Regions from separate parts of the Homo sapiens genome. Here region 1 is linked to region 2. Evidence: fine-mapped expression QTL. A gene starts in region 2. The other region holds a variant in brackets. All regions are shown on one strand. Distances are from middle to middle. Region 1 overlaps COL8A1 (collagen type VIII alpha 1 chain). Region 2 holds the start of COL8A1 (collagen type VIII alpha 1 chain).

What was found. PIP is the estimated chance that this variant, and not a neighbour inherited with it, causes the effect. A credible set is the group of variants that fine-mapping cannot tell apart.
Region 1: its variant is the best candidate, but not a certain one, in a credible set for the expression of COL8A1 in skeletal muscle (GTEx, PIP 0.89).

The regions. Positions count from the first base shown.
Region 1 is chr3:99,709,574-99,713,969 of GRCh38, forward strand. All of the region lies in intron 1 of COL8A1 (collagen type VIII alpha 1 chain), which reads left to right. Among named protein-coding and RNA genes, the nearest start is that of COL8A1, 73 kb to the left of the region's middle. The variant T/A (reference allele first, on the strand shown) is at 1,943.
Region 2 is chr3:99,636,741-99,641,136 of GRCh38, forward strand. It overlaps COL8A1 (collagen type VIII alpha 1 chain), which reads left to right and starts at 1,854. Exons shown (of 4, transcript NM_020351.4): 1 at 1,854-1,924. It overlaps LOC124909401 (a long non-coding RNA gene), which reads right to left and starts at 1,940. Exons shown (of 2, transcript XR_007095981.1): 1 at 1,847-1,940; 2 at 628-1,194.

The sequences.
Region 1 (4,396 bases), 73 kb after region 2:
TAATCTCACTCCACTTTTTAAAGAAGGCAATAAAGCAATCAAAAGATGTTTCTATGAGGAATTTAACCAAAAACTAGTACCCACAGAATGTCACATGCCTCTCCATATTGAATCTGACTCCATATCTATTTGGTTTGACCTGTGTGATCACATCAATGTTGTGAATAGCAACAGAGGCATTATCAGTGATTAAAATTAATTTCTTCCCAGAAGATGAGTGTTATGGTGTAATGTTTTTTGAAATGTTTTTAAGAACAAAGCTTAAGATGCAAAGAATTTTCCTATCAAGATACAGCTAAAGAGAGATAGTGACGCATAAGGAAATTCCTTTTAAGAGCCAACTCCCTTCTTCTCATGTGTGAGGAGAACCTAGCTATCAGGCTATTTATTTTGTTGGAGGGGACAGGGGAATCTCAGAATTATACTTGCTATTTAAATAGCCAGTATAAATTTTTTAAACCATACACTCATTCAAATGCCATTTAACTCTGCATTTCATCAAGAGTATGCATGCATGTATGTGTGCATGTGCACACACATTTAACACTAAAAAGGCTGTATCGCTGAAATAAAATTCTGAGTTATATGTTAAACTAGAAGAAGATGACCTGGAAATCCCAGAGCAGAGCAGCAACACTGTCATCCATGGAACTGGGATATTTCCCAGACTTTTGCCTGCGCTACTCACCAAATATTCTCTTTGCCCCACCCACAAAGGAAATGGCATCATGGGGAGGAACAGGTTGTGACACAGCAAAAATCACAGGGCATAGAAAATAAGCCCACTCCACTATCTCCGTCCCCTCCAAGCACCAATAGGAGGATTTAATACAGAAAAATAATAAAGTTATGTATATTTTAAGGAATGTCAGTTATGTCCAAATAAAAGGGACATTGTTAAACTAAGCTAAGTTGCCAGTGGCCCATAAGCAAAATTCCAAATAACATTTAATGAACCAAAGCTGTGGAAATTCGAGCATAAAGAAAGAGGTTTTTCACAAACCTTCCATGAGTTTAATCCACTTGGTCAGCTACTGTCAGGAGGAGCAGCCAGTCTGTTGGCTGTGAATAATAATGTTTGTGCCAGGCACAGGTGTGCTAACATGTGGACCAGGCATGTGTGTTATTAATATTATTATCATTATTCCTATTTTATAGATGAGACAGGGTTAGAGACATTAAATCACTAGCCCACATTCACACAAATGGCTAAGTGGTAAAGTTAACATCCAAAATCAGATTATATGAGTCCCAGGTCAATGCTCCCTGCACTATTAAGAATCTGGAAACTTCTGCTTAAAATCATAATATCTTGAAGAAGTAGGTAAATGTGAGGTAGAAAAAATATATACTTTATTTTCTTGATGGAAGTTCTGGCTCCACTCCAGGGCCTTACCCAAAGGTGATGAAATCCACCATTTTGGAACTCTTAATGGGTACCAAAAGGCAAATATGTTCTCAAACTATAAATGGTGGAGGAGAGGGTCTTGAAAAAACTATCACTATAGGCAATTTATTGTGACAATTCCAAGACTATTTTCTAAATTATTTTTTTCAATTGCAAATCTTCACAGTGGTCAGTCCTGCTTTTCACCTCATTACCTCACATATGAAATCACTTCCTTTTCTGGTTTAGAAGTAAGAAGACAATTTGAAAGCCTCAGACTTGAAGAAACAACAAACAAGAGAAAGCCCCCCAAAAGGTGATCGTTATTCAGTAGTTACATAAAAAGGGAATTGAACTAGAGTCTGAAAACACAGGGAAAGTAAGTCACTAATAGAAACAAATGTAATAGTCACCATATGATTAATTGTTTTGTTTTCAGCCTTCTGAAAACCCTTTCTTTTCTCTTCTCAAAACCCATTCTCGCCTTTCTTTTTCAAAACTCCTGGGATTCTTTTGCACATCTGCAAAACCAATGTCAGTTCCAGGTTCCTATTC[T/A]GGTGTTGAACCAATCTGGCCTCCAGCCTTGGAAAACGAAGCCAGTTCTCACCAGACAAACAAATGGAAGTGACCTAATACCTGGGGGATGTGGGAGTGGGGCCTCGACTGATAAATGGCAAAGGATTTCAGGCCTATCTGGTCCTCAGACCATTGACAAACAGAATCACATCACGGCTTAGCAGCAAATTGATGCAATCATAGGAAAAAGGTGAATTTTACTTTGAGAGTAGAGAGAGAGTATATGGGATACAGAGAATTATAAGGTCAAACTAAGTAGTTGTATTCTTTTTAACAGAATGATTTTATAAAAATAGTCAGCAACATAGGGATAATATTTTCTACCTCTCTATCTTCCTAATGATGATTTATGTCTATCAAACCAAGGCTGGTGGGGGAAAAAAAGCATTTTGATGCTATCAGTAAATAGAAGTAATACTCTTGGTTTGTGACTTTCTTTCCACTAATAAAAATACTTGAGCCTTTCAGGGTTTTGTTGACCTCTATTAAATTCAGGTAAACTTGGAAGTGAGCAAAACAGAAAACCTGTAGTTCTTGGAAAGCAATAAAGTCATACTTTGAAATTGAAAGGTTTTAAAAGGTTAGAAGAGAATGCATTTGGGGCCATTTGTGGCAGAAACCAAAATCAGGTGTTATTATCCTCACCAACAACCATGAAAAGAAACTTAGTTATTTGTGACGGTTCAAGTGGTACTTTCTTTGAGGAAAAAGATTCCAAACAATTCCTGGAAACTCTACCTCTCTAAGAAGATGGCATTTTTGTGAATTGAGGATAAAGGCATCAGCAACATATGGAGTACATTTCCCTTTATAAAACTGATTTGTTTAAAATTGAGGGGAAAACCGCTTGGCAAGGCATGTTGGCCAAGCCAATGGCAAAAAGTCATTTCAGTTTATTGTGATTCTTTTCCATAGTCCACCTCCCAGCCTGTCGGACATCCGGGCTCATGATTTATAGGCCCTGAATTGAAAACCAAAGGCAGCTGAGGATGCCTAACAAATATGACTTTCTCTTGGCATATGAAACACAACATTTCCTTTTCTGCCCCATATCTGCAGAGATGATGGCATAAAAGGAAACAGCTAAAGATTTTCCAGAAACAAGGTGAATTTGAAAAAGCCTCAGAAGTGGCTGTTTTTTGAAGGATTACTTAGTCTAAGGAAGAAATCCCAGAACTGAGAATTAGACAGACATGGAAGCTTTCCAAAAGTGGAGTGACTTATCACCCTGGCTTGCCCAGGTCTCTCCTTGTTTTATTGCTGAACGTCTTGCATCCCTGGAAACCCCTCAGTTTCAGGCAAACTGGGAAAATTGAGCCATAAAGGCAACTGAAGTCTATAACAGACTTGAGATGCCTTTCTTTCTCTACATTTCTCTTTTTCTCTACATTTGAGCCAGAAAGTCGTCTCAAGTCTTTTATAGACTCAAAAGTAGAGAAAGGAAGGTTTTCACAAAGTTGAGAACAGTTTGTGCAATGTGAGCAAGGTGGAAAAGAGTAACAAAAATTCTGATAATAGTAGCTAATATTCATGTAGTCCTTGATTTGTGTCAGGCCTCTGCTGTGTGCTTTACAAACATTATCTCAGTTAATCCTGATTACAGTCCTGAGAGTTACTTCTTCTTATTGTCCCCAGTTTACAGATAAGGAGGCTGAGGAACAGAGAAATTCAAGTAACTTGCCCAAGTTCACACAAGTAGTAAAGATAAAGCCAGAGTTAATGTCATGAAGTACATTGAACTTAACCAAGAACAACCCCTTCAATCTTCCACCACTTAGTCTTCTCATGCCCCACGTGCAGTCTCTTTAAATTTTAAGATGGAATTAGAACAGGACATAGTCTTATTTTTGCTACCCCAAGAACTTGCTAGATGCCAGATGCTCCCTCAAGCAACAGATTAAGAAAAAGAGAAACCAGTAAAGCTCACACTTGTTAAATGGCAATTGGTTTAGCACCTCCTAAAACAGAATCCACGAGCTTCTATGGAATAAAGCTACAAACTCTTACAGCAAGGTTACTTGAAACCTGCATCAGTAAGACGTTCAGTGCCTTCCCTCTAAAGCATTCTTTCAACCGTTGATCCTGGGCATTGGGCAACCTCTGGTGAGCTAAGCACCTTGCCAGACGGCTGTCATGAGCCCTGTTTAATCCTTCTCTCAAGGAGCAGTGGTATTGTTTCAATAAAGTTGCCACTGTAATTGCTTGGCTTACCGTTTAAGAGTATTATAAGTTCTGGGAATGGATTTGTGAAAAAAAAAATACAATTAAAACAAATTTTAACAGTGTTCTATTGAGTATGTAGTTGCACAAGAGGAGCCAACTTGCCCCAGGCTGGCCACTGGAGGATTTATCTTATAGAAGAAGCTGTTTTACTTAATCTGGTTTCCTATATAAAAACAGAATGCCAGGAGCCTGTGGCTCTGATGAGAGGGG
Region 2 (4,396 bases):
ACATATGGACGTAGGTATTATTATTATCCAAATGGCACTACTGGGTATTTTCTTAATAGATTCTTTTAAAATGCTTTTTTATAGTTGTGGGCCTTTTTTAGACGAATAGTTCTTAAGAAGAGGAGGGGATTTTGTCCCTCAGCGACATTTGGCTAAATCTAGAGACATTTTTTATTTTCACAGCTGGGTGGCGAGTGCGGAGTGGGTACTGCTACTGGCATCTGGTGGGTAGAGGCCACGGACACTGCTTAACATTCTACAGTGCACAGGAGAGGTCCCTACAACAGAGAAATATTCTCCCGAAAGTTTCAGTAGTGCTAAGTTTGAGTAATTCTGCTCTTCACCATCAAGTTTCCTTCTCTTGGAGCCTGCTACCAGCCAATGACATCAGGATCTAACCTGAGACGAACCTAGGTGTTCTATACGGCAGCCTGGTGTACTGAAGAGTGCCTAAGGTTTGCAAGCTCGCTAGCTGTGGCTCCCCCTCTCGCTAGCTTGAGCTAGTTATTTAAACCCTTAGAGATGCCTTTCTTTAAATTAAAAAAAAAATAAATAAATCTGCACAATATGAATCATACCTACCTCATAAGGTTGCGGTGAACACTGAATGAAGTACATATATACATATTCAGTACAAGTTCGTTCCTTTATTATTTCCAGCCTACCCATCCCTCCCCCCTCCCATTCCCGCCTTTTCCCCCTCCCGGTACTGTATCTCCCACCCCAAGTCTCAGGTTCTCTTTTAAAATGCTTTAATTCCTTTGGTGGCAAAAATCAGGCTTGGGCTAGGAAGTGAGTCACCACTCAGCAGCGAAAGGAGCTTGTTTTTCTTTCTCTGAATGCATTTCTTAGTAATTTCAGACTGATCCTTTAGCCACTTGTTGGTTGAATCCTCTCTTAATGTTTAAGACACACTGAGAAAGAACTGTGGCACCAAGACGTTTTCCGATTGTTAGGAATGAGAGTGTTTTAAATACCGAAAATAACCAGAGGGCAGAGAGCTCTGAAATCCTACGTTACATAAGCAGATGCTGGAAGACCCAGGCTGGTTCTGAGGTTCCTGTCTCCACAAGCAAGTCCACGCGAATCCTCCCCGTTGCTGGATTTACTTTAATGCTGCCGAAGTCTCAAAAGGGGCCTCTGGATGCTCAGAGGACAGGCAGCGCAGGAACTTCCTTGTCAAATAAGCCTTGCCTGGAGGGAGAGGGATGGGGCGATTTTCACCCGCGGGCGGTGGGACGGGGCTGAGGGCTGGGGGCTGCCTGGCTCCAGGCCATGTCAGTGCCTCCAGCTCCAGGTCCGGGTCCACCCTGAACTTTGGCTCTGCTGCCCGGACGCCCAGCTTCACCTCCCTTGCCTCGCTTAGAAACCCTTCAGTTCTCCCGGACCGCTATGTAGCTTTTCAAATTCCCAAATTCACAGAAAACACCTTCAAAAGTCACAATCACCCACAACTCCCTCTGCCAAAAAATGTCATGCAAAAACGGAAAATACTCCGATTCCCCTTTCCTCCCAGACACTCTCTCTCTCTCTGTCTCTGCTATTCATTTTCTCCCCCACCTTTCCCCATCTGTGGTCAAGATCCCTTTCACTATTTCTAGTTCCCTCTCTTTTTTCCCTTCTCCCTCTCTCTCCCTTTTCCACTCCTTCCTCCGTTGTGACCGCGCTCCCCCTCCCCCCGCCCCGTCGTCTCTCCTCCGCCTTGCGGGCTCCAGTCTCTGCCCGCCCCTCCCCAGAGAAGAGTGTCCAGCTCCTCCAGAGGCTGCCCGCCCGCCGCTCCTTCCCTGCCCACCTACTATGAGGAGCAGCTCCTCCCACCTGCCCATAAAAGCCAAGTGCATGTTACCAGCAGCGGATCACAGCCCTTCCCCGATCCTCTCCGTGGGAGCCAGCGAGCCTCTCTCCCTGATCTTACGTGCTCAAGGTAAGACAGCACTTCTGCAGGCAGCTCACCTACCAGGGGTTGCTATGGGGGAATAAGTCACCCTCTGGCCAACGCGTTTGCTGTTTGGTTAGAGCTGATTCTTACGGATGCGCGATCCGCTGCTCCTTTAACTAGCAACTGGTTTGAAAACAAACTTCTGTTTGAATGGTAAAATAAAAGCTCCTTCAGGGAAGAAACAGCAGCATAAATATTGCGAAACCTTTCTCTTTTTAAATCACTTTTTCTCCTGTTGCTGACTGTTGCTTAGGTTAAAATGTATCTGTTTGGGGTGTTGTACTGACGTTTTTCACTGTACATATTTCACACATCAGTGGGGGCAAGGAAAACGTTGTCCCATTGTCAAAAATGTACTTTAAAAGAACACAGTTAACTTCCTAAAAATAGCACAGTCAAAAGGTCTGCTAACAATTTTGTGATGTTTTCCAAACCCCCAAGACAGCTTCTGTGAGTCCTTTAAAAAAATATCTTTCCAGGTTTTAGCGCTTGGAAAAAAATGATGTGAACGGGTGCCCTTTGCACGGGGACAGTAAGTAATCAGGTGGCTGGTAGATAGGAAGGAACAAATCCAAATTCACAAGCCAGGGTAGAATGTGCTCTCTCACCAGGCTATCTTTTCACGACATCCTAAAATGAGAATTACGATGGAACTAAGAAAGTGTATAAAAGAACTTCATGAATTTCTGTACACACACCTAAACATAAAGTGTTTCAATATGTTTCACAGTAAGAGAATAATACAGGCCAGATTATACAATACTTCTGTGCACACCAGATGGTTGTAAAGAAAGATCAGCGAGAAAGGCTTTGGAAGTTTTAATCCTTCTTTCCACCTTTTTTCCCCCGCATTTAGTAAATCACAACCTACCTGACTGGCATCCAATTATCAGAGATATTCAGTGTTTAAGCTACCCTCTTTAAAAGAAAATGATCTCTTCTTATTCCTAAGGTAGAATAAATGTGCACCTGTGAAAGGAAAAACATACTCCACAGCCACTTCTGTAAAACCAGACACTTGGTCCATGAAGTTTGCCATCAAATTCTGTGGGTTGTGTGGGATGAAACTCTCTCAAGTGGGAGAAAAACCCTCTTCAAATGTTTCCTCTGGGGAATTGCTCAAGACCACTTAGAGAAGGCAAACCAAAAGTACCAGTCAGGAAACCAAACCACTCTTTTAGCCCTTAAGGTTCTTAAAGTAAGAAGAGAAATGTTTCACTTTTTTATTTTTTTGTTTGTTTATATTATCTCATGTGGAAAGAAAAAACTCACCGAAGCTGTATGAAATTCTCCCCTATTAAAGAAACAAGACTCATTAGAAATTTAACTTAGGTCTTCCAAACCATTTCTCCTTAGCTTTTGCATATCAAAAGTAATAAAAATATTTAAAAGTTCTGCTTGAGATGGAGAGGATTCAATGCTGTTACTCAAATGCAAGAGTTATATATAAAGCTTCTGTCACGTTAAATTTTTCTTCATTGGAAAAAAATATTGCAAGAAGTGCAGTTTCCTTTAAGCAAATTATATAAAATTACTATTGGCCAAGATAGTATGTGACCTGAGCATATTAACATACCTTTTATCTCATGCCACAATGCAGACTGCTTGCTTTATATCTGATGCACATAGGTAATCAACCATGACAAGAGTACAGGTATGGGACAAGGCCAGACCAAGTATGTGGCACATTCAAGTTAATTCTTCTTTTATGGTAGTGCCTGACTCACACCCATTATCACAAGGATGAAAATACGCTGCTTCATTCACCAGATCCCCTTGAGGGAAGTTATCTTTTCTTGGGGTGGAGGGGGAAATGCTCCCAGTTTAAATGAGCTTCCAGTTATTCCTAAGTTTGGGGATAAAAGTATTCTCCAAGGGTTTACTTCTGCTTTCTCTGGCAATTAATCCACCGGACCAGCTATGGACCGTTAAACAGTAACTGCCTTCCCTATGTCCCATCAAGTTCAAGCCCCTAAATAACTGAGTGAGATCATCTTAGATTGCTCATGATCTAAGTTTCCCAGGAGCAAAGCTATCCTTTCTCCATAGGGTACATACCAAGCAAGATGACACTGCTCTTCTTAAGCTTTTAGAAAAATCAGTGTCGAAGTTTCATGTAGTCGCCCCCAAATCTCCCCTTCTGCATGGGATGTGGATACTTCACGTGAGTCTCCTCTTTTTGCCATTATATAGCTGCCTCTTGATCAAGTCCATGACTATACCCAACCAATGCCATTGAGGCAGACTTGGGAGGACTTCTTAATGTTTCTCAGAAAAGATAAGATGAGAAGCTGCCGCTTTCACTAGAGACACAAGAAGGGAGCTCTACTGATTTTGAGGGCTTGCTGATCCTACAGAAATGTGCATTTTAGATGTTCTACTACTGTCAAAATTATAAAATGATATCCTTTTCATGATCAGAAAACATATGCCACTTTATTCCTATTTATGAAATAA